Homo sapiens: one gene and its partners. The protein of the gene in region 1 purifies or fractionates together with the protein of each later gene. This does not show direct contact. Each region holds a gene or a part of one and is shown in the gene's direction. Other genes may lie near its edges.

Region 1 (5,340 bases):
TAGGTTTACCACTAAGGATCAGGGGAGAAGAACTATTGGGGGAATTGTTAAGAGCAGACACTCAGAAAAATTGGCACCTATAATATGCAATTAGAATTCATTAAAACATGTGGCCAGGTATGTTCTTATTTTGTGTTTTTACATATCTAATCTCTAAGTACTATTCATATGGAATGTATTATTCTAAAAAAATTGCCTGTTAGTTCATGCAGTTCCCACTCTCTTTTCATCTCTAACATCTTGGCAATCGTTTACCAGTTGTTGATCACCTGTCTCCTCATCTTCTTTCAACTTTGCCCTGACTCTACCAGATACTGGGCAACATCATTTCCCAGACATTGAGTAACTTCAAATGAATGTGTTCATGCTACTCCAACTGGCTTTTGGGAAAGCACTGGATAGAGTTTTTGAGCTGGAACAGGAAATTATCTTACTTAATTTCTTTCTTTTATAGATAAAAAGATGGATCCACAAGATGGACCCATTGGTCCATAATTAAGGGCTAGTAAATGTTTTGTAAACATAGAAATCAAAATTACTTTTCTGTGATTCTAGAACAGGAAAAAATGGTGAACTTTTAGGTATGTTGCAAAGAACAGTGGATTATTCTTTGGGCTCTTGGGACCAACAGCCTTAGTTTTATTGCTTTGCAAGCTATGTGGTCTTGAATAAACCTCAGTAAGGCTCAGAAAGCTTCAGTGTTCTCAAGTATAAATAGGAATAATTATAATATAATAACATTAATAGTATTTATCTCACCATCCTGTAATAAGGAAGAGAAGGATTAAATATTGAAGGTTATATTGATAAATGATAAAACACATGCAATGATTGTAATAAGTGTGTTAGATGGCAAAAGAAAAATAATGAGGATGAAATATTTACTTCCAATGACTAATCTACACATAATCGTGATTTTATGTATGACTGAATGTTTAAGGCTGATTCCATTTTAGAATACAATATATAACATAAAAAGCTCTACTCTCAGTTCCAAGAGTTATAATTAGTTTGGCATGGATTTTTATTGTCTTAGAAAAAACTGATATTCATGGTTTTTATAATTCTATCTTTGGGTAATAGGCAATTGGACTCTCTTTCTATATATATTTGCTTATTAAAATGTGTTATTATAATTAAGCTTTAGGCTGTGTCCACAAGATGGGAAAACATTGGAGTAAAATATAGTAAAACCATAGAAATTGAGAGTGGGTTGAAAGTCTTGTTTAATCTGTAATTACAGATGAAGATAGTAAGAATGTAAATGTCCATAGAAGACTTCAGTGGCTTTGTTAAAGGCATGTGTTCATCAGTGTTGAAGTAAAACTCACATTTTGTGACTCTGAGCTGTTCACTATAATATGAAACCTAATCCTAAAACACAATATTAAAACAGAAAAATGTGAAGCCATAGATCTGTAATAAAGGGCCACCTGATTGTTTCCTGGTGGAATAAAAAGACAGTTTTATTTATAAGATATATCATTTTTATAGATAACAATGATTCATATTAGGAATAAAGTAACAGTTTCAAACTAAAATAATGCTAAAGTTTTTCAAGTACTACTTGAAAATAGCTATATTTACTTTCAAACCTTTTCCTCTTTGAGTCATTAGGTTCATGATATTATATAGCAATAGGGAATGAAAGAGAAGCAAGGAGAAGCAATACTGGGAGATTACAGAGAAGAAAGGAAAAAAGGCTGAGAGAAAAGAGGTTGAGGAAGAAATCATAAATCTGGATTGTGAGAAAGTGTTTAATATTTAGCCACTAGATGGCGATGTAATGTAAGGTGCTGTCTTGACTTTTTTTTTTTTTTTTTGAAACAAGCTATTTGCTGATTTGTATTAGGTACCATAGAGTGAGGCGAGGATGAAGCCGAGAGGATACTGCAGAGGTCTCTGGTGCATGTGTGTATGTGTGCGTTTGTGTGTGTTTGTGTGTCTGTGTGTTCTGCCCCAGTGAGACTGCAGCCCTTGTAAATACTTTGACACCTTTTGCAAGAAGGAATCTGAACAATTGCAACTGAAGGCACATTGTTATCATCTCGTCTTTGGGTGATGCTGTTCCTCACTGCAGATGGATAATTTTCCTTTTAATCAGGTAAGCCATCTAATTGTTTCATCTTGATTTTAAGTTTATTCATTCCAGTTATTCCTTTGGAAAAAGAGTCCATGGAAATTCAGTTTGGGCAGAGCAGGAAGTCCATTTTTGTATGTGTATTCAGACCAACTGTCCCCCTCCTCCCTCTCCTCCTCTTCTCCTCCCCTCCCCTCCCCCCTCCTCTCTCAACCTTCCATGAACTGAAATCAGGTTTGTTTTGCAGTTCAGCATTTTGATAGAAGATGGGATTCTTTGGCCTGAAATAGCTTGGCATCTGGCCAGTTCTTGCCTTTGCTTGCCTTCATCCTATTCAAGGTCCCTTTTGATCCTGTTGAAGCCCCCTCCTTCACTGGTGCTTTGGAAGTGGACTAGCTGGCTGGGAATAGAGGTCATATTGTTCTTAAGGACGGAGCAAAAATTAGATCTCAGTTTTAACTCCACAGGAAGAAAGAAGGCAGCGGGGCTGCTGCTGGAGCCTAGCATTGCAGGGGTATTCAGCTTCCTGAGGCTGAGGCTGGGCTTTTGAGAAGAAATGCCTCATGCCTTGAACAAGGAAGGGGCAATGATTTCCGCCCCCCACCTCTGCCAACTCCTATTGAGCCACACTAAAAAAGAGCTTGAGCAGAGTGGTAAAGAGTCCCCTTTTCTATCCAATGCCAAATAGGAAACATTGACTTACTTTTACTTAGACAGAGGTCACAACCAGCAATGATACTGCAGATACTGCTCAGTTCCTAGTGTGAACCGTCTTGCTTTTCAGAACAGCATAAGAATTATTTCTGAGTGGAGGTGAGGCTTGTCCAAATGTCTTTGCTATCATGGATTTCCTGACTCCTACCTGTTTGAGGTATGTGTTTAAAGACCCGACCCACTTGCTGCATTTACTTCTCATTTCTTTTTGTTCTCTTTGATTACTCACTGGTGATTGTTAACAAATCGGTCTGGAGTGGTGGGTATGTGCTTTTCACCTGTCCAATGCAACAATTAAGTCAAGGCAGGGTATATTACTGTCAATATGTGCATGTGACTAAATATTTCTGAGTGCAGTAGCAAACTTGCAAATTGCCAATTGCTGTTGCTATCACACCTATAAAATGTGTCTTCTTCTTCTATGGATTTACAGGTTCACGTGGTATTTCTGATGCGCTAGTATAGTAACAGAACATATTTCTCCAAAAAGCACTTTAAATCATCCCAAGAGGATGTTGCCAGACAGAAATAGGAAAATTCCATGCTGAGGTTGGTGATTCCTGCTTTAGTTTCTCCTGCCCAGAGAAGTGGGTAGCTTACCTTTCCTATTTGCTGCAATACCTGGCACGCCAGGGTGATGCAACTGGGAGCTTCTGCACGTTCGCGGGGCATCTGACATTCTTCTTTCCCTCAGCTGTGCATTTCAGGAGAATGACTGTGGTGAAAAACTCTTTTAAAACTCTCTTTTATGATTGTTGCTTTTGTAATTGCAATGAAGCAATTACAAAATCACATCTCTCTTCTAGGAGGAGTTTTGCAATTTAGGCCTTCCTTCACAAAGCTCCTGGAAGAGATTTTTAGCTGGTGTCTATTTTAGGAACATAATGTGTAGACAGGAATGAATGGCCACAGAGATTTACGGGAAACCAATTTCTTGGAGAGGGTGAGGTAACATTATAAACCACTAGAACAGAGCACAAGTGGCTGGTTATATCACATGGACCCAGCAATGGAATTAGTTTTCATTAAACTCACTGTAACTCATTTGTGTGGCTGTTTTTCCTCCTTCCTTCACATTGTTTGTCTGTTTTGTTTCAAATATCTATATAGGAGGCCAGGATACCCAGAGTGTTCATACTGGTAACAATAACACATTGGATTTTGCTGCCAATACTAATAGACTTGGTTTACATGCCCCCTCTTGCTGGGAAATGTGCTGTCTGGAGAGTCATTTATTATGGTAATTTCTCTTTAAGACATGGCAGGAGGGATTGTCCATCTATGGGCTGGGGCAAGGCGGGGCACAATTGGAGGCCTAGTTAATTATACAGTATTCAAGAAGGCACTAAGGAGCTCAGTCAGGATTCTGTTGTACCAACCAGAGATACCAGGGGCAACCAGACCGACTAGATACCCAAAGTAAACTCTATCACCACCAACAGAGGAATCCAGTAAGAAACATTCTAGTTCCTTGTATAGAGGGTACTATCAGGGAATCCAGACAATCAGAGAGGGTAAACACAAGAGCACCTCATCTGGGAATTGCTGACGAAGAAGAGAAAATCTGGGGCTTGCTTGGTGTTACCTCTAGGACGTCACCAACCAGGCATTTCTCAAGGGTTTATGTCGGTGTGAGCCTGACAGTGACACACAAAAGCATCCCTCCAAAATTTAGCCTGGGGACCTTGAAAGGTATTGCTTTCTCCCTGGGCAGTTGGAGAGGCTGAACCTACTATTTTCTCCCTGTACTCGCCAAAGGGCACAAAGCCTACTCTCTTCCAGCTACCTCAGAATGGGGAGGGTGGGAGAAACAGATCCCAGAGAAGGATGGGAGAGAATCAGCAATTGAAGGTCCTGTATAGTCACCCTCAGGGTCAATGGGGCTGTGCTCCGTGAGGTTATCACTTCCTTTTTAAATTCTAATTAGTGAATGAAGCATGTTCCACCGCTCAATTGAGATTGCATTAGTTTAGGGTAGGGTGGGAAGAAATTTATTCTCATTGCACTTGTGATCAGAAAAATAAGTTGTGACAGAATTCCCCAAGCTGCCCCAAAGTTTGCTTTTCCAACTTTTAAATTTTGTCCACATTCCTAGATTTCCATTTATTAATTGTTTTATTTATCAAAAACATATAGCATTTACTCTGTGCCAGCCACTATCCTAAGCAGTACTTTGCAAATATGATCTCATTTAATCCTATGAGGTAGATACTATTGTTAATTTTACAGGTGACAAAACCAAGGCACAGTGAGGTTCAATTAACTTGCTGGGTTATACAGTTAGTAAGTGGCAGAATCCAAGCAGTCCAGCCACACCGTGGCCATGGCGTCTGTGTTCTTGATGTTTGCTCATCATCCATGTGATGGTAGAGCTACAGCTTAGCCAAGAGACTCAGGACTGAAGTTGGGTGCAGTCGTACATGTGAGCTGTAATTCATCTGCTTTCTGACATGCCAAAATTCCAAAAACAGTTTGGTTTAGAATGATTACCCAAATCCACTCCATTTGTTTGTTTGTTTGTTTGTTGTTTTTTTGAGACAGAGTCT
Region 2 (5,334 bases), on another chromosome or scaffold:
GGGGAGCTGTAGAAAACACTTGCAGAGCCAGGTTTTGCTGGTTTGGGGCATGCCCTGGGCACCAGAGCTTTAACATTTGAAGCCACTTCAGCAGCAGCAGCAAAAGGCGAACTCATCTCTACCCAAGATGTTTCTTTTCCTAGTGGTGGAATTTGAACACTTCTCACTTTTTATTGTATTTTATCTTCCGCAGATAAATGTAGAAATACACGATTCTGTCACCTCTGATCCCTTCCATCTGAAAGGTTACAAGGAGTGTTGTAGCTTCTGAAGGTGCAGAAAACAATTTCTAAAAATGCTTTTATTCCTGGGCTAATCCTGTCCCTCCCTAAGTCACAGCGAGGTGTCTGTCCCAGGGCTGGAGATGCTTCCCAAGGAGGAGTCTGTTTTGTTGAGAGTGGGCGTGGGCTTCTTCACATAAGCCTGGGGAAGGAAGAAAAAACGGCTTTCATTACCAAATAATGTAAAACCTCAAAAGCAAGGGCTTCAACAGCCTTAACCAAATATTATTCCCCATAGCCAGTGGAAAATGGATGTGACAACCCCAGTGCGCAGGCCAGAGTGAGTGAGCCCAGCACGGCGCTCCGACTGGCTTCCTCTCTCAGGTGCTGGATTGTGGGGTTAGTGGCATTTCCAGCTGGATTCCTCCTGTTGTAGTTGCCATAAGGAAATGAGATGCAGAATCAGAAGGATCTATTTCTACAGAATCATTTCACCAGTTAAGCACATGAGTAGAGAAAGAGATAAAAATAAAAGTATCTCATGAAGGAAAGAGATTTTGCCTCTCTTTTACTTTTCACCTAAGTTTCTCTGAGAAATAGAGACAGGATTCTCTCTTTAAAATTCAGTGAAAATGAAGAAAGTTTTCCTGCAGTTGCTAACCTGAGTTGCAGTGTTTAAGGCCATCATTTCACTGCTGCTGTCTGTGACTCCACGTCTGTGTCACTGAGGTGACCTGCGTGTCACTGAGGTGGCCACCATGCTGGCCTGCGGCATGTGCAGGGAGCTGAGGCTGTTTCCAGGTGATGCTGCTGTGTGGAGAAGGTTCTGAGATGCAGTGAGGGAAGAAAGGATCCTGCTGGGGATTCCATTGTAAGCACCTATAATCGGGAATTTTCATGTAACAGCTTTGACATTTAAACATTCTGAGTTTGGTGCCAGCTCAGATTTGATTATATTTTATTTTGGATGGGTGTAATTCACAGCACAGTTCTAATCTCCCAAATCTTTCTGCTTTTTAGAATGAAGTATAAAAATACTTTTCTCACCTGAATACCAAGGGTTGGCCCTTTAGTTGGATCATTGTCATATGACTTGGTAGATCCTTGTCCTCAGCACCTCACGTGAGAGAAGGGAGTCAGCCAGCCGGCCCCCTGCTTGGTGCTCGTGACCAGCTCGCACCCCTTCTGTCCACCCTTCTCTCCTCTCCTCCCCACTCTCCCCACCCTCCTCACTCTCCCCACCCTCCTCACTCTCCCCACCCTCCCCTCCTCTCCTCCTCACTCTTCCCACCCTCCCCATCCCCACCCTCCCCATCCTCCTCTTCCCTTTCCCCTTGCCTTCTCCTCTCTCCCTTCTCTTCTCAGGCAGGGAGGAGGCCATCCCAAGCCGAGATTAACAGGACTTGACATAAGCCATTAGTTTGTAGCTTTGACAAGTAATTATGAATTTTTGTTGCTTATAGGTGCTTATTTTGCAAAGGATGCTTTTAAGATCAAAATAATAACCCTACCTAAAGTCTAGCTCCACTGCTATGGGTCATACTCTTCAGCCTCCCAACAGGGCAGAGAGAGAGAGCTACTGAGGCTTGTCTAGGTTGCCAGGCTAACTGGGCGACTTGTCCATATTCACCCCATGGATTGCACCATGGCACTCTTTGATTTTTCCACTGCAATGGCAAGTAATCTCATCAGTCATAATAGAGCAGTCCCGAATGCGTGCAGATTCTAAAAGCAGGGCTTTAGGAGAGAAACACTGCCAGGGGGAATAGTTTTGGGGAGGGTTTTCCCAAAATAACGGTCATCCTACTGGGTTTATCCCACCCTTAAATATGAAGCCTGTTACCTCCAGAAGCTTCTGAGAAGAATGATGTGAAAAGACAGGGAGTGGGTTCTAGGCAAAGAAAACATAATGACCATTCAGAGGAGTCAGTAGCACAGCTCACAGATAAAGTATTTTATTACTATCTGAAGTTTTCTTTTGTTTTCATGCAGGACATTTTAAAAACGTATATGGCAGCAGAAACCTGTTTCTCAATAGAAAAAATACATTCAGAGGCATTTCTGGGATAGTCTATCTGTGTTAGTATTTGGTGCTATCTATGTCCAGCCAAGTTATCTACCCTCAAATTCTGACTAATCATGTTTGTGCTTTGGGTATTTAAAATTACATACATATATATTCTTTTTGCCAAAAACAAAAGTCTTGCTTCTTGTCAAATGATTGCTAAAGTAGATCTTACATTTTTTGTTATTATGTATGTATTTATACACATCCCCAACACACTTAGTGATTTCTGTTATTTCCTAGGGAGCACAGCTTTAAGGCTATGAGATACAACTAAAAGGAGCCCATCTATTTGGTTTTCCAGCCAATTATTGTACTCACATTTCAGGGGAGAATCTGAAATTCCTGTCATGTTTACAGCAACAATCTATCATTCCTGGCTAGCTCTCAGCCTCTCTCTCCTTCCATAGGTTAGAATTATGTCATTTTGTTACTTAGTGGCCACGTCTATTTCTGAGAAAGACTGGTTACATTTATGTGGCATCTCAGGTATCATTAAGGAAAAGCCAGAGCAGGGGTGAGCAGAGGTCAAAACCACAGACGCAGCAGGGCCATTTGCCGCCTTTGGCCGGGATCACAACCACTGCAGTCTCCCAGCAGGTAGGCCTTGCCAAGCCTAAGGCTCCCCATCCAATCTAGACAGAGGGGCGCTCAGAGCAGACTTTGCCGTAGCCCATGTCTGGTGAGCACAACAGGGAATGAATTGGGCACTCCACTCCCCCGTCTCTCTGGCCCAGCCCTGAACTAGATGAGCTGCATTTCATGGAGCCCATTTTAAAATCTCTTTCCTTATGACTTTGTTACTCAAGTCCAGAGTTCTCTGTGCACTTCTGCTAGATAAGGAGTGTAAGCCCTGCCCCCCAGCACTGGCAGCACGCTGGGCCCTCCCCACACAGGACACCGTGCAGTTCCGGGGGAAGCTGACTCAAATCAACCTTGAAATCTCATGAAAACAAAATGACTTGTCTTTTTATTTGATAGTGTAATATCATTCATTTTATAAATTTTTTAGGGTTTTTCTCGTAATATTGTACAGTTTTGCATGGCCTGGTGTGATCATTTTTTGGTTAGAATATAATGCTGACAAATGTGGATGGAGGGGAAGATACTGCTTTAGCCTATCACTCCTTATTTTATTTTGTTTGGTTTTATGCCCTCAGTGTCTTAGGGAACTTTTTAAGAGATCCTCTGCTACCAAACAATGATGTGGATTCTTTTGCACAGAAATATTTAAGGTGGGATGGTAAAAAATGTCACAAAAGACTCCTCACCAATACTTTATGTTGATATCACTTAATATTAACCAGACTTTGCTGTATTGCAATAAAACAGAGAACTGTTAGCATTGAGTATTTTGTCTCTTTTCCCCCCACTTGAAAGTCTGAGAAATAGAGAAAGGTGCCACCTCTCCGCCTGTCACTTCTCTTCTTTCTGCTGGCCTCCTTCCTCATCCAGGCTGCTTCTTTATGCCGTAAAAGGACATGGGGTTAGTTTGCCCCTGTGGTTTAATCTAGGACTTTCTTAATTTCTTCCTTAGCTCGGGTAAGAATGATGTTCAATTCTCCTGAAGCTTTCAACTCCCCTCTTCTGGCCAGAACTTCGCTGTTGCTGTTACTTCGGTCCACAAGACCAAACCCTGGCTGCGTGAGGTTTCCTGAGTGGCCCTGACAGTGTGAATGTGGGAGCAGTTTGATTTTGTGTCACTTAAACAAGACGGACTGTTACTGCTTTTCTGGAGTTAGAATGGTTCATCTAAGAACATACAGGGAAGGTCCAGGGGTGGGGTTAAAGGAACTCCTGAACTGGTGGCAGCTAAGTAGTTATTCGGAGAATACTTCCGGTTCCAATGGCCCATGGAATTGACATTTGTGGCTGATACTGTTATGTTGGTTTACTGTAGTGTCAGCTGTGCAGTGCTTTAGAACAGGGCTTGGCAACCCTTTTCTGTCCAGGACCAGTTAAGAAATCCTTGTGCCTTTGTGTATATAGTTTGCTGCAGCTCCCCGGCTCTGGCATTTCAGTGCAAAAACAGTCTTAGCCTGCTACGTACATAAACGAGAGTGGCTGTGCCCCAATAAAACTTACAAAAATGCAGTGGGCCAGATTTGGCCCTTGGACCATCATAGTTTGCCAGCCCTTCGTTTGGTCCCCTTAGTGTAGACTGTAAGACTAGACTGTCTTGTTCCAAATCCTCATTCTGCCACTTAACCTCTGGGCCTCTTTTTTTTTTTTTCCCTCTGTAAAAAGGCCCACTTGGAGTGTCAGGAGTTAATGCACTCAGAATCTAACTTCTAGCCTATGGTTTAGTGTTTTGTCCTTATGAGTAACCGCCAAAGCCTACAGTAACAAATATTTTTTTGTTGTGTGGTGTCCAGCCCTTCACTAGATGTTAGGGACACGAAGACACAGACCCTGGGAAAATCAAGCCATGATTTGCCATGTTCTCATGCCCCATGTCTCAGTGTGAATGGGTGAGCACGGGGAGTCATTCATCACAATACTGTAAAAATCAAAATAGGTACAAAAGAATAAGTATGTGTGGCCAGCTTCAGAGCCAGCTTTACTTGGGGATTAAAGTCATTTGCAATCCAGTGATCCCCACTGTCTTCACAGGGAGGGCTCTAGTTCTCAGCCGGCTCTCAGACTTAGGACACACAAACCACATTCCAGTTTTCCCTTAGAAAACTTCTCCTGTTCCAGCAGTTATGGTCGTGGTTCCTGGGGAAGCAAATGCTGGCTGCTGTTGTTCTCCTCTCCCTTCCCCCCGCATGCTGCTGCTTGACTTGTTTGGCTTGTTGTTCAAGAGGAAGAGGAGACTGTGAGAGCCCTGGCTGGGGCTGGCCTGGGTTCTTCCCCTGCTGTTTACTCTGCAGGGCGATGGCTTCAGATCTGAGTGCTGCAGAGGAGTTTGCTAGACAACAGCAAATACCCTTAAGAAGAGGGCCACAAGAGTTTCAGCCAGGGATCTGACAGTGGTGCTGGGCGCCGCTGCTAGCCAGGCAGCCTCACGGACGCCACCCAGGCCTCTCCATCCTGTCCCGGAGCCCA
Region 3 (4,706 bases), on another chromosome or scaffold:
ATGCCATCATCATGCAAAAAGGTATATACAATGGTATATATGAATAGAATGCATATAAATAAGAAAAACAACAATAAGACTAAGTATAGTGTGAGGTGACCTCTTAGAGAAGGAAGTGAAACCTAGTTTAGACTTATACTAGAGTGATCAACTTGTATCAGTAAAATTACTTGTCAAATTAAGATATCTATCTGATCTGGCACAGAGAAGTCTGAATATATAACACCTTTGATATTTAGGTATTTTTGAGACAGAGGTACAATAAAAATTATGAATAAATAATAGAGATAAATACCACTCAAATCCTAGAAGCTATGGAATTCTGAGTTGTAAACTTGTAAGTGCTGAAGAAGAAATCCATCTAATCTATATTTGTTTATCTTTTCTGTACCTACTATTCATTAGTGATTTGTCTCCTTTAATATTATTGAAAGAATTGCATATATCCTATGTTGATTTTGCAGATAAGACTGAAATATATTTCCATTTCTTAAAAGTAAAAAAAAAAAACTGCATTTATTGAAAAACCTATTTCTGTGTTCTTTCACCTTAGCTCTGGAACATTCTTCCTGGTAGAAGCACTCAAAGTTCTTTATTCCATCTACTATCCTTAGTTTCCTAAGAAACTGAACATAAGGATCACTCTATCCAAATGCACAGTCCATATTCTTAGCGATAACTTTCTTCCCTTAATACCCTACATTCTTCCCTCTCTAATAGCCTAGGCTAGTAATCCTTCAGAAGGAAATAATGAAGTGTCTTTACTTCTCTCCCTTAAGATTAAGATATATTATCATATCACCCTGACTCCTTTCATCTCAGCCCCACCTTGATTCTTCTAGCACATGTTCTACAAAGCAATAACTCTCAGCCCAAATGAAAGAGAAAGAATAGGGGAAAAGGGTACTCAAATGCCCTTAAAAGCTCAAAAGTCTTACCTAAAGATCCTCAGTAAAGTCTTCCCTGTCCATCTAATAGCCAACTTAGGCCTTTGTAATTCTTTTACTCCCCCGTCCAAAATTCTCACCCATAGTTTTGCCATATTTATAGCCTGGGGAAAAGGAAAGGGAGAAAATATATGCCAGTTTTTTGCCCTAAAATGGAGATTTTATTCTGCTTACCACCAGTCTTTACTGTCAGATTACCTGAGTGCAAATTCTGACTTACCATGTGCCCAAGGACAAGTTACTCTACTTCTCTGAACTTTAGTTTTCTCTTGTGTATAAAGATAATAATAATTCTTCATAGGACTGTTCTGAAAATTAAATTAGATAACACATGTAAAGCACAATATTTAGTACATTAGTACTGAATAAATATTAGCTGTAGTCTTTAATGGTGGTTCTTTATTCCTTTTTTTAAATCTGTGCCACTGATGCTGATTAAAACCCCTCATTGAGGAAGGAAGAGTGGGTACAATTGGATATTAGGGCAAGTGTCAGATCTCTATTAGTTTCAGACACCAGAAGAGATGCAGGTTTATCTAAGCTGGCTGGAACAAGTCAGCTATAGCTTGTACAAGCCCTTTAGTTACACAGATGGCTATAAAAACTGTAGAAGCCAGCTAATTCTACCTCTTCTGCTTTTCTTTTTCAAATTGACACATACCACCTCTTGAAGATGGAGGAATCATTGGTTTCATGTCCTATTCACAATCTGGGTAATATAGAAAAGGGTTGGGAGTTTGAAACCTGTAGTGTTTTGACCATAAGGTGATATCCTAAATTCTAGTGGGCATCAAAGTTTTTCCTCTTTTGTCTATATCTTGCTGTAATAATTAATTCCCTGATTTTCCTTTCTATCTAGGATTTTAATTGATTCTCTTCAGTTGTATTTTAGTGTATTTCTGGGCCTCGTTACATTTTGTTATTTTTCTCAATCTATCAAAATCCGTGCATGTACTTTCTACTATCCATACTTCTTTACTATTTAATGTCTCACCCACTCTCTTATAGTGGCATATTTCTTTTGCTCTAATAACTAAATCTCTTACAGGTAGGAAGCTTACATAACTAATCATTATTCAAAGAACTAGAAAATTAGACATTTGAATAGATTAGTCTCAGATGATCTACAGGACACTATTTTGTCAGCTAAAGAATAGCAATTGTATCAAATCAGTACTATTTTAGTAGATTTTCATTACCTAATATTACTTTTAGTGAGTATAAGTAATATATGTATGTACTGGTATCTATGGCAGTACTGTGTACAGTGAAGAAACAACATAACTTTTTGAATGAATAATTTCATATGTACTTGAAGTAGTTTTGATTCTCTTGATTAATAAAGTGGTTCTACAGGTAGGAACAGGCATGGAGTAGGCACTCAGGAAGTGTTGAATGAAGTAAAGATCTGCTAAAAGTTTAATGGGATTTCGTCAGCCCTTGTAAAATAAAGAGTTATAAAACTGACAGAGAAAGGTTTATGGCTATTTATAAATATTTGTAGAGAAAATTTTAAAATAATTGTCTCTGAGTTGTTAGTCATACTAGAATGCTAGATTCATTAAGCAACCTAATGCTTCTGTTTACTAAGCTTCATTTGGCCAATTGTGAAATGAAGAGGAATTGTTAAGGGATTAACATTGTTTTCTCTGATTATTTTAGGTATTATTTTCGTACACGACTTAACAAATAAGAAGTCCTCCCAAAACTTGCGTCGTTGGTCATTGGAAGCTCTCAACAGGGATTTGGTGCCAACTGGAGTCTTGGTGACAAATGGGTGAGCCAATTTCACAATTGGTTTGAAAGATTGTAGCAATCACAGGAATGTACTTCCCTGAATAACACTTTGTAAAATGTTTGATTTGCAAAGATTTTTCTTTCAGTGTATAGATTATCTTTTCCTTTTAACAGTATCTTTCACAAAGCAATAGTTTTCATTTTGATGAAGTCTGATTACTCTTCTTTTCTTCTATGGATTGTGCTTTTGATATCATGTCTCAGAACTCTTTGCCTAATCCTAGATGATGCAGGTTTTCTCTTATGTTTTCCTCTACAGATTTTATGGTTTTACATTTTTATAGTAAAACATTTATATAAAACATTTTAAGTTTTATAGGTTTGCATTTAGATTTATGATCTAAGTTAGTTTTGTACGAGATGGGAGGTTTTGGTTGAGGTTAACGTTTGCATATGAATGTCTAACTATTCCAGCACCATTTATTGAAAAGATATCCTTTCTCCATTGAATTGCTTTTGCTCCTTTGCCAAAAATCAGTTGACCATATTAGTATGAGTCAACTTCTGGACTCTAGTTCTGTTCCATTGATCTATGTGTCTGTCCCTTCACCAGTACTACGCTGTCTTAATTATAGTCTTAAAATTGAGCAGTATGATTCCTTCTACTTTATTCTTTTTCATAATTGTTTAGCTATTATAGTTTATTTGTTTTTCCACATGAATTTTTAGAATCAGCTTGTCTATATTGACAAAAATTTTGGTTGGATTTTTATTAGAATTGCATTGAACCTATTGATCACATTGGAGAGAATTAACATCTTTATTCTGTTGCATCTTCCAGTTCATGAACACAATATATCTCTAAATTTATTTAGATCTTCTTTTATTTCTCTTACCAGCATTGTGTAGTTTTCAGCATACAAATCCTGTGCATGTTTTATTAGATTTATACCAAAATATTTAATATTTTTTAAGCTATTGTAAATTGTTTTTTTGTTTTGTTTTGTTTTGTTTTGAGACTGAGCCTTGCTCTGTTGCCAGGCTGGAGTGCAGTAGCACGATCTCAGTTCACTGCAACCTCTGTCTCCCAGGTTCAAGCAATTATTGTGCCTCGGCCTCCCAAGTAGCTGGGATACCTGGCTGATTTTTGTATTTTTGGCAGAGACAGGGTTTCACCATCTTGGCAAGGCTGATCTCGAATTCCTGACCTCAGGTGATCCACCTGCCTTGGCCTCCCAAAGTGCTGGGTTACAGGCATGAGCCACCATACCTGGCCATAAATGGTATATTTAAACTTCAGTTTCAAATTTTCCATTGCTAGTATAAAAAAAAATAGAATTGATTCTGAGTGCTGACCTGTATCTTGTGACCAGAGTTTTTTAGTACAATCCTTAGGATGCTCTACATAGACAGGTTTATTTCTTCCTTTTCAATCTGTGTGCTTGTTGTCTTATTTCTTGCCTTTTCGCACTGGCAGCAACTTCCAAAAGGGTACTAACTAGGAGTGATAAGAGTGAATATCTATGTCTTACTCCAATCTTAGGGGGAAAGCATTCATTTCACTATTAAGTATGATGTCAGCTTTAGGTTTTTTTTGTTGACATCATTTATCAGGTTGAGAACATTTCTTTCTATCCCTAATTTGCTGATAGTTTTGTTAATATCATGAACAGATACTGAATTCTGTCAAAAGCCTTTTCTGCATCAATTGATATGGACATGTGGCTGCTTCTTTAGGCTGTCAGTATGGTGGATTACGTTCACTGATTTTCAATACTGGTGGATTACATTCACTGATTTTCAAATATTGAACCAGCCTTCCATTCCTTGGTCATGGTGTATTATTCATTTTATGTGTTGCTGGATTTGATTTGCTAATATTTTGTTGAGGATTTTTATCCATGTTCATGACAGGCATTGGTGTGTAGTTTTCTGTTCTCATAATGTCTTTGACTGGTTTTGGTGTGAGGATAATGTTGGCCTCATAGAATTAATTGGAAGTATTCCTTCCTCTTCTATTTT
Region 4 (3,500 bases), on another chromosome or scaffold:
GACTGGAGTACAGTGGTACGATCACAGCTCACTGTAGCCTTGAACTCCAGGGCTCAAGCAATCCTCCTGCCTTAGCCTCCTAAGTAGCTGGGACTACAGGCGTGTGCCACCATGTCCAGTTAAAAATTTTTTTTTTTTTTTTGAGATGGAGTCTCACTCCGTCGCTCAGGCTGGAGTGCAGCGCGTGATCTCAGCTCACTGCAACCTCTGTCTCCCAGGTTCACACGATTCTCATGCCTCAGCCTCGTAAGTAGCTGGGATTACAGGCATGCACCACCATGCCTGCCTAATTTTTGTATTTTTAGTAGAAATGGAGTTCACCGTGTTGGCTAGGCTGGTCTCGAACTCCTGACCTCAGGTGATCTGCCTGCCTTGGCCTCCCAAGCCAAGTGCTGGGATTACAGGTGCGAGCCACTGTGCCCGGCCTGGTTAATTTTTTAATTTTTAAAATTTTTTTGTAGGGATGGGGTCTTGCTATGTTGCCAAGGCTAGTCTTGAACTCCTGGCCTCAAGCAGTCTTCCCACCTCAGCCTCCCAAAGTACTGGGATTACAGGTGTGAGCCACCACACCCAGCCGAGACCTATTTCTCTGTGTGTGTGTGTGTGTATATGTATGTGTGCATGTCTTCATTTCATTCTGTAATATCCCATTTTTGCATGTAAATAATTGGCCTAATTTAGCCCTTACTGACATTTATGTTGCATAAACTGTTTTGCTCTTACAAATAAGATTGCATTGAAGATTTAAGACTCACATTTATCCTGTCCTTCTGTACAAATATTTGTGTAGGATTGAGTCAGAAAAATGGACTTTGTTACACAAAGGTTTGAGCACATTAAATATTAATAGATATGACCAAACAGCCCTCGAGAAGAGCTGTGTTTATGCCTACTTGTAGTAATGGTCTGTGAGAACACCTTTTTCCCTACATTCTTGCCAACACTAAATAGGATCACTCTTTCATTTTTGCCAATCTGATAGCGTTAAAAATAGTATCTCGTTTTATTTTGCAGTTCTTGGATCACTTGTGAGGGTGAGCCTCTCTTTGCAGCATTTTGCAGTTTGTTTGTCTTCAGCAGTGATCACTTGGTTCACATTTGTCTTTTCTTGTTTATTGTTTTTTGTTTTGAGACAAGGTCTCACTCTGTCACCCAGACTGGAGTGCAATGGTGCGATCTTGGCTCACTGCAACCTCCACCTCCCAGGCTCAAGCAATTCTCCTGTCTCAGCCTCCCGAGTAGCTGGGAATACAGGCGCATGCCACTGCACCTGGCTGATTTTGGTATTTTTAGTAGAGACGGGGTTTCGCCATGTTGCCCAGGTTGGTCTTGAACTTCTGAGCTCAGGTGATCGCCTGCCTCGGCCTCCCAAAATGCTGGGATTACAGGCGTGACCCACTGCACCCAGCCTTTTTCTTGTTTATTGTGATAAGCATTTCCCCCTGTTGTTACATTGCCTTCATAACCGTCATTGTTAATATCCATCTTTTATTAGAACTATTACATTGCCTTCATAACCATCACTGTTAATGTCCATTCTTATTAGAATTAAAGAATCCCAATTAGAATGGCCAACCTTGCATTGCACCTTGCACTGAGGAAATGAATGCCCTATTGCTGCCCATAGTTGGAAATTTAAGTTGCTTCCAATTTTTTTATTACTTTAATTAATGGAGCAATGAACATCTTTTGTCTGTAATTTGAGTAATATCTTTTGTTTTTTTTTGAGACAGAGTCTCGCTCTGTCACCCAGGCTGGAGTGCAGTGGCGGGATCTCGGCTCACTGCAAGCTCCACCTCCCAGGTTCACGCCATTCTCCTGCCTCAGCCTCCCAAGTAGCTGGGACTACAGGCGCCCACCACCACGCCCGGCTAATTTTTTGTATTTTTAGTAGAGATGGGGTTTCACTGTGTTAGCCAGGATTGTCTCGATCTCCTGACCTCGTGATCCACCCACCTCGGCCTCCCAAAGTGTTGGGATTACGGGCGTGAGCCACTGCGCCCGGCCAATTGGAGTAATATCTTAACATAAAATCGCAGATCAAAGGATAGGCATCCCTTAAGACTCTTAATCTATACCTATATACATACTTAAAACATTTTAAAGTTGTGAAGGGCTATAAAATCATCCGGTACAATCCTCTCTACAAATAAGGAAATGAGGCCCAGAAAGGGAAAGAGACTTCTCTGAAGACACACAGCTAGCACAGAACAGATTTAAATTCCAGCTTCTGACTCCTGGTTCAGTGTCGGTTCCCTGACATATCAGCCTGCAGACTTTAGCACTATGCAAACATTGCTCCCTGTGGGACACTGCGGTAAGTGCTGGAGGTCCTGGAACAGCGGTGGCAATACCGGACATTGAGCTGAAGTGCTCTGGCCCTCCTGGGCCCCTGGATCTGCCTGAGGCCAAAGCTCAGACAGTGTGTGTCACCTAGCACCAAGTCACCTAGCAAGGACATCTAGACCAGAGCTTTCCAGCTGCTCTGAGGTGTTCCCTTGAGGCTCTCAGGGGTAGGAAAGCTGAGGAGGGATGGGACCAAGGGGAGTCACCACCCCCACTGTACCCAAAGTGGCTCTGCTGCCATCCATTTGATGTATTAGATGCTCCCTAAGATTATGATTTGGCAGAGGGGTTTGCCCAGCTTTTGAAATATTTGGAGACCTGATCTGATTCCCTTATTTCCCAAGGAGAAGACTGTGAGGCACAGAGAGCCTTACCCAAAGGCCCTCCCAGAATCAGCAGCAGAGGGATATTTGCCAAGTGCCCCAGTGAGCAAGACCCTGATACCTGAGGGAACAGGGCTGGGGCAGAGTGGTGGATGCCATTAGACATCTGGGCATTTCATTTTAGAAGCATTGCTTCCAAACATTTCTGTTTCTAAGCATTCAGGAATTTGTCCCTGTGTGCCAGGCCCTGTGATGGGCCCTCTGCAGGCACTGCCCCGTGTAAACATTGCTGCAATCCTGTGAGAAGCAGCCTACCCCCATTTCACAGAGGAGGCCCAGAGATAGGAAGTGGCTTGCAGTCAAGGGCTGGGGTGGACTGGAGCTCATGCAGCCACCTGGCCTCCTCAGCTGGTGTGTGCCTGGAAAAGACAGACTATCTGGGTTCTTTCCCATGTCCTGGGCTTCTCTGCATGGCTCCTGATGCATCAGTGAGCACCAGGAGCGCCTGTATCCAGGTGGCCCTAAGTCTCACTTTCATTATGCAGCTGCTGCCACTGCCAGGTATGTGACACACCTCACCTGGGGTTAGATCAGGTTGCTCTGTTTCCTGCTGGGTTCCCCTGTTCACATTAGCAGGCAGAGGCCAGCGTGAGTGTTTTTTGCGCTGCCCCATACCATCCACACCAAAACTAATTTGGGCAAAGAGGCTCTTTAGCCCCAGTTTCCTCCCTGCAGAGTGGCCTCACCAGCAGGGTGGCCTTACCAGCAGGGTGGGCCTGCACAAGCGGGTGGCACACAGATAAGCTGCAAGTGCTGGAGGCCAGAGATCCA
Region 5 (4,706 bases), on another chromosome or scaffold:
CAGATGTCCACACGTCAGCCAATAATGTTTGAAAATGCAAATCAGATCCAGTCACTCCCCATCCTGGGGTCTTTGCACTTGTAGTCTCTCTACCTGGGATGCTCTGACCCCATTTCCTGTCATAACAATGTCACCTTTTCAGTTGGCACTTCCCTGACCAACCTGTCTGATGGAGCCTGGCTTCTACCCACTCTGGCCTCTCTCTGTCCCCTTTTCATCTTTTTTTTTTTTTTTAATATATAGCACTTGTTGATACCTGTCATAATATATCTGTTTTCTGTCTTCCCCACTGGAATATAAGCTCCATGAGGGCAATAATATTGTCTATATTACCTGACATATACTAAGTGCTCAGTAAATATTTTTGGGAGAATGAATAGCTAAACTTTCCATTGGAACCTTGCAAAGGAAGCCGTTCAGAATGAGGCTCAGTGGCCTCTGGCCTGAGAGAGATTTGACCAGCCCTCCCTATACTGGAAGAACTAGGACAAATAGTTTCTAAAAGGCCCTGCCGGCCAGGAACAGTGGCTCACGCCTATAATCCCAGCACTTTGGGGGGCTGAGGCAGGCGGATCACTTGAGGTCAGGAGTTTGAGACCAGCCTGGCCAACATAGTGAAAACCCGTCTCTACTAAAAATACAAAAACTAGTTGGGTGAGGTGGTGCACGCCTATAATCCCAGCTACTTGGGAGGCTGAGGCAGGAGAATGGTTTGAACTCAGGAGGCGGAGTTACAGTGAGCCGAGATCACACCACTACACTCTCCAGCCTGGGCGACAGAGCAAGACTCCATCTCAAAAAATAAAATGAAAGGCCCTGCTGCATCAGAGATTCAGTGACCAACCCCTTAAATTCCTGGCAGGCACGATGGCTCATGCCAGTAATCCCAACACTTTGGGAGCCTGAGGTAGGAGGATTGTCTGAGGCCAGGAGTTCAAGACCAGCCTGGGCAATATAAACAAAACTATATATATATAGTTTTCATATATATAAAATTTCATATATATAAAATTTTAAAATTCGTAAATGTGGTAAAGAAGTTTGGTTTGGGAAAAACATCACAGATTGGGAAGAGAAACAGTTTGTTAATGACTTGGAAATCCTCCCTTAGTTGAAATGTCAGCTTTCACTGGGCACAGTGTATTCACTTCCATAAGATGAGCTCCTCGTCTTCTTCACCTTCACTTGCCATTATAGGTGCTGGCCCTGCCATCAGGGATTGGTTATAAAGTTTTGTCTTTTTGTTGTGCAGGTACTGTGTGGTTTTATTGACTGCTGAGACTACCAAGTTGAGCAAACCCTTTGAGGCTTTCCTGTCCTTTGCCCTGGCAAACACTCAAGACACAGTGAGATTTGTGCATGTCTACAGCAATCGGCAGCAGGAGTTTGCCGACACCTTACTACCAGACAGTGAGGCGTTTCAAGGGAAATCAGCGGTAAGCCACAGAGTCTCTCCTCATCCCAGGCTCTTCATAACCATGTGGCACTTGATTCTGTTTCCTTCTTCCTTGAGAGTGTTGAATACAGATTCTAGGAAATCTGAAACTCTGAAGCCTATTTTCAAAGTCTACTCTTTTGTTTTTCCTTTTTCTTGATTTTTTTTTTTTTCTTTTGAGACAGGGTCTCACTCTGTCTCCCAGGCTGGGAGTGCAGTGACATGATCTCAGCTCATTACAGCCTCGACCTCCCAGGCTCAAGTGATCCTCCCACCTCAGCCTCCCACATAGCTGGGACCACAGGCACACACAACCACGCCTGGCTAATTTTTTGTATTTTTTTGTAGAGATAGGGTTTCGACATGTTGCCCAGGTTGGTCTCAAACTCCCGAGCTCAGGCAATCCTCCCGCCTCCCAAAGTGCTGGGATTACAGGCATGAGCCACTGCTCCTGGCCTAAAGCCTACTCTTAAAACAGTTTTTGACCTGGTCTTTTTACATTCTGGATGTCAGCCTCAGGCCCCCACAGAAACCATGTTTTCTATCAGTGAACGGTAAAGGTCATCAGTGCTTTTCACCAGTTTTTTACTAAGGCAAGTCTGGTCTTGCAGCATCCTAGATCCTAGATTTTACAAATCCTTAGGCCACTGGTAATGTGCTCTGGAAATTTCTGCCCCCCTCTGCCTCTTTAACTTCATCCTGGTTGATCTCTCCTGCCTTTCTCCTGCATTGTCATCACTTCCTACAGAAACAAGAAATTCTCCTCTGACTTTTCATCATTTTCGCAATCATGGAAAATCTCTCTAAAAAACAAAGGTTTCCATTAATATTAAGTCAAGGTTATAGAGCAAAGTCTATTGAGAAAAAAGAGCTTTAACTTTTAACAAAAGCTTAGGAAAGTCACCATAAAAGTTATTTCTTAGGCCGAACGCGGTGGCTCACACCTATAATCCCAGCACTTTGGGAGGCCGAGGCGGGTGGATCACTTGAGGCTAGGAGTTTGAGACCAGCCTAATCAACATGGTGAAACCTCATCTCTACTAAAAATACAAAAATTAGCTGGTGTGGTGCACACCTGTCTGTAGTCCCAACTACTCAGCAGGCTGAGGCACGAGAATTGCTTGAACCTGGGAGGCAGAGGTTGCAGTGAGCCAAGATCGCACCATTGCACTCCAGCCTGGGAGACAAGGGCGAAACTCTGTCTCAAAAAACAAACAACTGGGCCAAGTGTGGTGGCTCACAGCTGTAATCCCAGCACTTTGGGAGGCCAAGGCAGGCAGATCACGAGGTCAGGAGATCGAGACCATCCTGGCTAGCATGGTGAAACCCCATCTCTACTAAAAAAAAAAAAAAAAAAAAAAAAAAATACCAAAAATTAGCCAGGCATGGTGGCAGGTGCCTCTAGTCCCAGCCACTTGGGAAGGCTGAGCCAGGAGAATGGCGTGAACCCGGGAGGCGGAGCTTGCAGTGAGCCAAGATCACGCCACTGCACTCCAGCCTGGGCGACAAAGCAAGACTCCGTCAAAAAAAAAAAAAAAAGCAAACAACTGTAACTTAACCATGCTTTTGAAACTTCTGATGTTTTTTCTCTACTTTTCTTCCAGGTGTCTATTTTAGAAAGGCGCAACACAGCAGGAAGGGTGGTGTATAAAACCCTGGAAGACCCTTGGATTGGGAGTGAGAGTGACAAATTTATCCTCTTGGGCTATCTCGACCAGCTGCGTAAAGATCCAGCTCTTCTGTCCTCTGAAGCAGTGCTTCCTGACCTGACCGATGAACTTGCCCCTGTGAGCATCGGGGCTGGGAAGGGTGGGACACCAGGAGGGCTTGTGAGTACACAGTGCTGGTGGCGGATTTCTGCTCAGAGCAGAGGTCCAGCAGCAGCACTGTGTTGCAGGGTAGAGGGACTCTCCCTTCCGGCTTTAGTCCTGACCATCATCCATTTTCTCTCTACATAGGTTTTTCTCCTTCGATGGTTCTACTCTGCTTCTGACTACATCTCAGACTGCTGGGATAGCATTTTTCACAACAACTGGTAGGGATATTGCCAGGCTGAATTTCTTTTTCTCTGTTAATACTGATATCACTGTTTTTCTTTTGAAAAGAGTTCATCATTATTAAATTTCAAGGTACACTTGATGGGGCAAGTGGAAGAACGTTTACACATTTTCTATTCCCCTTTTTCTTTCTTTCAGTAACTTCCCTTTTTTTTATTTTTTACTTTTTTTTTTTTTGAGACAAAGTCTTGCTCTTGTCCCCCAGGCTCAATCTGGGGATCACTGCAACCTCCGCCTCCCAGGTTCAAGCAATTCTCCTGCCTCAGCCTCCTGAGTAGCTGGGATTACAGGCACCTGTCACCATGCCTGGCTAATTTTTGTATTTTTAGTAGAGATAGGGTTTCACCATGTTGGTCAGGCTGGTCTCAAACTCCTGACCTCAGGTGATCCACCCGCCTCGGCCTCCCAAAGTGCTGGGCTTACAGGTGTGAACCACTGCTCCCGGACATTTTTTATTTTTTATTTTTTTTTGAGACAGAGTCTCACTCTGTCACTCAGACTGGAATGCAGTGGCACGATCTCAGCTCACTGCAACCTCTGCCTCCCAGGTTCAAGCGATTCTCCTGTCTCAGCCTCCCGAGAAGCTGAGATTACAGGCACCCACCACCATGCCCAGCTAATTTTTGTATGTTTAGTAGAGACAGTGTTTCACCATGTTGGTAAGGCTGGTCTCGAACTCCTGACCTCAGGTGATCCACCCACCTCAGCCTCCCAAAGTGCTGGGATTACAGGCGTGTGCCACCATGCCCGGCCACTTCCCTTTTTTTATATTGGCTGACTGACCCTTTCCCACTGGCTAGGAAAGGATCACCCATGGCTGCCATTCTGGGCAGCAGAGCCTGGGACTGTCTCTTCATCAGGGAACCTCTGGTGCCCAGCACAGGGCCTGACACACGTGGAGTCCAGTGTATAGATGTAAAAGGAATGAGTGAATTAACCTCAAGAGGGATACCCACTCCCACCTACTGATGAGACCATGAGCCCCTGAAGGACAGAACCACATCTCATTCGTGTTTGTGATTCCTGGCACCCAACACAGCACCTGACAAATGACAGCCTTTGATGGGTGTTGGTAGGTACATAAAATTTCAGAACACCAGTCCTAGATGAAATCTTGAAAGATCAATTTTATCTCCCTACTCCACCCCTCTGGGCTACATCTGAATTTTTCTGGCCAGAAAAAAATCAGTAAAGTTGAGGAAATAATTCCACAA
Region 6 (4,706 bases), on another chromosome or scaffold:
TAATAGTACGTGACTCATAGGACAGGCCGTGAGGATGAAATGTGCCTGGCACATAGTAGATGCTCAGTTAATATCAGCTAGTACTATTGTTAGCGACAATGGCCGAATCACGATGGGGTTACTGGACCACGGGGTGTGATTTTAGGGCTGGGGGATATAAGCACTTCACTTTGTCATCAGAAGCTAAGGGCACAGGAAGAAGCTGAGCAAGCAGGGCTGCCTGCTGTCCTTGGAGATCCTTTTCTGTCATTTGAAAAGCATTGCTCAGACGCATTATCATCCGGTGGGGGCAAAACAAGAGGTTTATGATGCAGAACAGGGAATTAAGTTAGACAACAGAGGGCCTTCCTGAGAGTGGGGTTGGAAGGTGCCAGTGTCCTCTAGGGAGGAGGTGAGGCAGGCATCCACTTCCAGACACCCTCCCCGCCCCCGCCTCCACCGACCTTGAGGCGAGTGGGGTTTCCTTGGGGCATCTGCAGGACTGGGGGTGGGTGTGTGTGTGGGGCGGGGTGGCGGGGAACCAGGCCCCCTTACAAGGACTCCGGAGCGGGAGTTTGGAGGCCGTGAGTGGAGAGGCCTAGTCCCAGCGGAGGGGGCCGCATCGGAGTGCTGGGGCGGAGGTTCGAAGCGTGAGAAAGAAGCCTGGGGGCGCTCGGGGACGAGGGGGCGGAGTGTGGCGAGAAGGCCGGGCTGCAGGGCTCAGGAGGGGACCGCGGGTCCAGCGCCCTCCCCGTCCCGCCCCCGCGCGCGTGCACTCGGGCTGGCCCGGAATCCCTCCCCAGGGTGTCTTCTGCCACTGACTTTCCCACCCTGGCTGCGCCCGCGCGCCCCCGCGGCTGCCAAGCTCCAAGCCCCGCGTCGGTCCCCACCCCCGCCGTGTTCCCCCCTGCCAGGCCGTCTTCCTGCGGTTCCCAGGGTCCCGTTTGGCGGCCAGAGGGCGTCGGACTCGGCTGGCCCAGCGAGGTCCAGCCCGAACGTGTCCTTCTGCCTCTCTGCCCCTGGGGACCAGGGAGGAGCCTCCAGGGCGGGGGAACGAGAGGCTACTGGACGGCGGCCCGGGACTGCGGCGGCCGCGTTTCTCTTCTTCACCTTACGGGACCCGGCTCTTCCCCCTCCTCGACCGCCCCGCCCGTCAGTCCTGAAAACCTGGCGAGAGGCGCGTACTGTCCTAGGGGAATTCCCCTGCAAACAGAAGGGAGCCCGCCCTGCGCGTCCTGGAGTGGGTGCGGCAGGAGCGCTTCCAGGCACTGCGTCCCCAGGTGAGGGGCGGAGCCGGGGCGCGGTTCGCGGCAGTGGCCAGGCCTTTGTTTCCTTGGGTTGGGGTGACCCCTGGTGGTCATCCAGAGCGCAACAAGGGCTACTCCCTGGTCCAGAATTCAGTCCTTTCCAGGGGAGAAATGGAGAATGATGGAGGGTGGCCCAGGCGGTGCTGATTGGAGTAGACAGCCATCCTCCCGAGGTTGGCACTGAGGGTGATAGAGACCTACCTGCCTGGCCAAGCTACTCCGCCCTGCCTAAGCATCCCCTTCCAGAGCTCCAGGCTGGTGGGGTTTTATTAAGGGAGGCGGTGCTCCTTACACAGGCCTCTTCCTGCTCCCCGTAACCCTGTCGCTGGAGGTGTCTGTGGGAAAGGCCACCGACATCTACGCTGTCAATGGCACGGAGATCCTGCTGCCCTGCACCTTCTCCAGCTGCTTTGGCTTCGAGGACCTCCACTTCCGGTGGACCTACAACAGCAGTGACGCATTCAAGATTGTAAGTATTTGGAGGAAGAACAGTACAGCCCAGCCTCCCTCACCCATGCCTCGCCTCCTACGCTCTGGTCCCTTCTGGACTGAGACCCACTGCGATGGTCCCCAGAACCCACCTTTTGCCACCCTTTCTCCCAGTATTCTTTTCAGAGCCTGCCAGGAAGGATGTAACTGGGAGAGATGCTTAGATCGTGTTGCCAGAATTCGGGGACTGTTGGAATTCTTGGCTAGAGTCCTCTGTCTGGTCTTAAGAAACACCCGGAGCTTGGATTGCTTGTCTAAAAATCAATAGTTTAGTCTAAGAAACAGGAGAGAGAAAGGCCTTGGAAAGCTTGGAGAGAAGGAATGAGAAGAGTCTGAATGAGGGAAGGGCTGAGAAGCTGGACTGGCAGGGAAAAGAGAGAGGAAGAGAGGGAGAGCTGCAGGAGCATTGGCGCGGCTGCGGTGGGGGTGGGAGTGAACTCACTAGATTGTACTCACTCTACAATCTAGTGGGGGATCCAACCTGAGACTTTCACAGGGAAGCCACAAGAGACCAACTCTGGTTATAATTAAATGCTGACCTCAGAGGGTGCTGACGGGCAGAGCTGTGGGATTGATCCAGGTCTTGACAGGGGGCCAAAATTCAGTTGGGCAGGTGACATGGTGTCAGCAAAGGCTGGGTGGGAGGTGACAGAGGGAGATGAGTGCGGTGCTTGCAGGAGTCATTAGGTAAAAGGCTTTTATGAAGAGAGCAGTAAGAGCTGTGCTGCATTCCAGGGAGACCTTAATAAAAGGAAATGGGTTTAGCCTGAAACAAGTAAAATTCAGGTTAGACAGGCAGAGCTATTGACGCTGGAAGAGGAAACCATGGGGGGAAGGAGCAGGGCGTGACTACAGGCTCTTCCTGGTCCTGGACAGGGGAGGCATCCAAGGAGTGGGCTGGTGTGATGTCATGACCCTTGAGGACCCCGATTCTTTCTCGGCTACTTTCTCACCCCAACTCCCTTCCTCCACCAGCTCATAGAGGGGACTGTGAAGAATGAGAAGTCTGACCCCAAGGTGACGTTGAAAGACGATGACCGCATCACTCTGGTAGGCTCTACTAAGGAGAAGATGAACAACATTTCCATTGTGCTGAGGGACCTGGAGTTCAGCGACACGGGCAAATACACCTGCCATGTGAAGAACCCCAAGGAGAATAATCTCCAGCACCACGCCACCATCTTCCTCCAAGTCGTTGATAGACGTATGCAGTAGGGGCTGGCACAGGGCAGTGGCGTGGGAAGGACTTGGGAGGCACCCAACTCAGCATCACAGTGAAATGGCAAAATGGACCGTGTTGGTGTTTTCTTTTGCTTTACACTTTCCAGAGCTGCTGGAGTTACATCTAAAAGCTAGAAGAGCTCAGCTTGAACACTTATTCTGCTACCAAATAGCTTATGAAATACTCTCTAAGCCTCGTTTTCCTCATCTGTAAAATGGGAATATGGCTTCATTTTCCTAGAGTTGTGGTTAGAGAAGCTACCTGGTAGTGTTTTGTGGCTAGTAGGGTTTTCTCCGTATATACTGATTATTAATACCATTGGGTATTCCATTAGCAAAAATTGATTGAATGTCAGGCATTGGACTAAAAAGTGCTATGAGTGATACATTACATTCTTCCTTGAGGAATTCACAGTACAAGGTAGGACAGAAGATAAATAAATAGCTAGAATGGGCAGAACATGATGCATACATCTGTCAGTAGAGGTGAAAACAACAGAGATGGAGTAAGACATGGCCCTTGTCCTCTGGGGGCTTACATCCTACCTAGGATTCCAGTCTGACACAGGAGGACCAATCATACAAGGAGGGTGCATATGAAAAGGAGCCAGGTGGTCCCTGACCAGACCTGGTGTGGTTAGAGAAGGAGGATATGATAACCAGGGCTGGAGAAGTGAGGCATGGCCCCACTGAGGGGAGGGGCCTGGAAGACTAGGGAAGTGCAGAAGCAGAGAGAAAAAGGGAAGGGGACTTGCGCAAGGATCCTGACTCTGCTGCATTTTGTGTGTACCGGGAGTTTGCTGCTCTCCTGGATGACACTGAGTCCCTGGAGAGGGAGACACCCGTGAGTTCAATCTCGAGTATGCAAGGGCGGAGCCAGAGGTTATCCAATCAGCTTTTCTGAGCCTGGAGTCATAGGTCTGCCTATGGTGTCACCTCTTCCTTTCTGTCTGGGCTTCTGTCACCCAGCTTGTACTCAGCCTTTTCAGAAGGAAGAGAACGGGCATTTGTGGAGCGTTTTCTGGGTGCCAGATCCCGAGTTAGTTGCTGTCATTGATTTTAGCTCCTTTGCTCCTCACCAGCTCCCTTGAGGTGGATCGTCTCTCCATCTGTATGGATTCATTCATCCATCTGTTCAACAAATATTTACTGAGCACCTTGTATGGGGCAGACGTTATTCTAGATTCCGAGGATGTGATATGAACAAGATAGACAAATTCCTGCCTTTATGGAGATTACCTTCCTCCTCTTCTGTGTATGGAGATACCAATAGAAAATAAAGAAGAAAAATGATATTGTAAAAGAGAACATGGCTAGTGTTAAGAAGAAAAAATAAAGCAGGAAAGAAAGATGGGGTGCCAGCAGGGTGAATAGGGAAGGGCTCTCTGGAAAAGGCGATAGAGTGGGGATATTTGAAGGAGGTGAGAGAGGAGCCATGAGGGCATCTTTGGGAAGATAGGGAGGGAACAGTGAGTGCAAAGGCCTTGAGGCAGATGCGTGAAGAATCACAGCAGGCTAGTGCTGGAGCAGGGCAAGGAGTGAGAGATGAGTCAGGTCAAGCCAGATTGTGTAATCACCCTGCTGGAAGGGTGAGTGAGGTGGGAGCCACTGGGAGCAGAGGAGTTAGGGCCTGAACAGGTTCACTCAGGCCCCTATGCCAAGAATAGATGATAGAGGGAGGAGATCAGTTAGGAAGCTATTGCAGACATC

Evidence for each region.
Region 2: the proteins of SCN1A (region 1) and CDC42BPA purify together in Homo sapiens (affinity purification with mass spectrometry, with the first as the bait; one large-scale study listed by BioGRID). This does not show direct contact.
Region 3: the proteins of SCN1A (region 1) and RABL3 purify together in Homo sapiens (affinity purification with mass spectrometry, with the first as the bait; one large-scale study listed by BioGRID). This does not show direct contact.
Region 4: the proteins of SCN1A (region 1) and DHCR24 purify together in Homo sapiens (affinity purification with mass spectrometry, with the first as the bait; one large-scale study listed by BioGRID). This does not show direct contact.
Region 5: the proteins of SCN1A (region 1) and DNAJC16 purify together in Homo sapiens (affinity purification with mass spectrometry, with the first as the bait; one large-scale study listed by BioGRID). This does not show direct contact.
Region 6: the proteins of SCN1A (region 1) and SCN4B purify together in Homo sapiens (affinity purification with western blotting, with the first as the bait; one study listed by BioGRID). This does not show direct contact.

What each region holds. Positions count from the first base shown.
Region 1 is NC_000002.12:166,124,535-166,129,874, reverse strand, and holds the start of SCN1A (sodium channel protein type 1 subunit alpha), read left to right. Parts: upstream 1-1,854; 5' UTR 1,855-2,104; intron 2,105-2,864; 5' UTR 2,865-2,951; intron 2,952-5,340. UniProt on the Homo sapiens protein: Pore-forming subunit of Nav1.1, a voltage-gated sodium (Nav) channel that directly mediates the depolarizing phase of action potentials in excitable membranes.
Region 2 is NC_000001.11:226,988,159-226,993,492, reverse strand, and holds the end of CDC42BPA (serine/threonine-protein kinase MRCK alpha), read left to right. Parts: 3' UTR 1-3,628; downstream 3,629-5,334. UniProt on the Homo sapiens protein: Serine/threonine-protein kinase which is an important downstream effector of CDC42 and plays a role in the regulation of cytoskeleton reorganization and cell migration. Regulates actin cytoskeletal reorganization via phosphorylation of PPP1R12C and MYL9/MLC2.
Region 3 is NC_000003.12:120,704,018-120,708,723, reverse strand, and holds part of RABL3 (rab-like protein 3), read left to right. Parts: intron 1-2,609; coding exon 2,610-2,724; intron 2,725-4,706. UniProt on the Homo sapiens protein: Required for KRAS signaling regulation and modulation of cell proliferation. Regulator of KRAS prenylation, and probably prenylation of other small GTPases. Required for lymphocyte development and function. Not required for myeloid cell development.
Region 4 is NC_000001.11:54,866,696-54,870,195, reverse strand, and holds part of DHCR24 (delta(24)-sterol reductase precursor), read left to right. Parts: intron 1-3,500. UniProt on the Homo sapiens protein: Catalyzes the reduction of the delta-24 double bond of sterol intermediates during cholesterol biosynthesis.
Region 5 is NC_000001.11:15,560,890-15,565,595, forward strand, and holds part of DNAJC16 (dnaJ homolog subfamily C member 16 isoform 1 precursor), read left to right. Parts: intron 1-1,252; coding exon 1,253-1,436; intron 1,437-3,039; coding exon 3,040-3,222; intron 3,223-3,393; coding exon 3,394-3,470; intron 3,471-4,706. UniProt on the Homo sapiens protein: Plays an important role in regulating the size of autophagosomes during the formation process.
Region 6 is NC_000011.10:118,142,106-118,146,811, reverse strand, and holds part of SCN4B (sodium channel regulatory subunit beta-4 isoform 1 precursor), read left to right. Parts: intron 1-1,378; exon of another isoform or gene 1,379-1,582; coding exon 1,583-1,755; intron 1,756-2,750; coding exon 2,751-2,979; intron 2,980-4,706. UniProt on the Homo sapiens protein: Regulatory subunit of multiple voltage-gated sodium (Nav) channels directly mediating the depolarization of excitable membranes.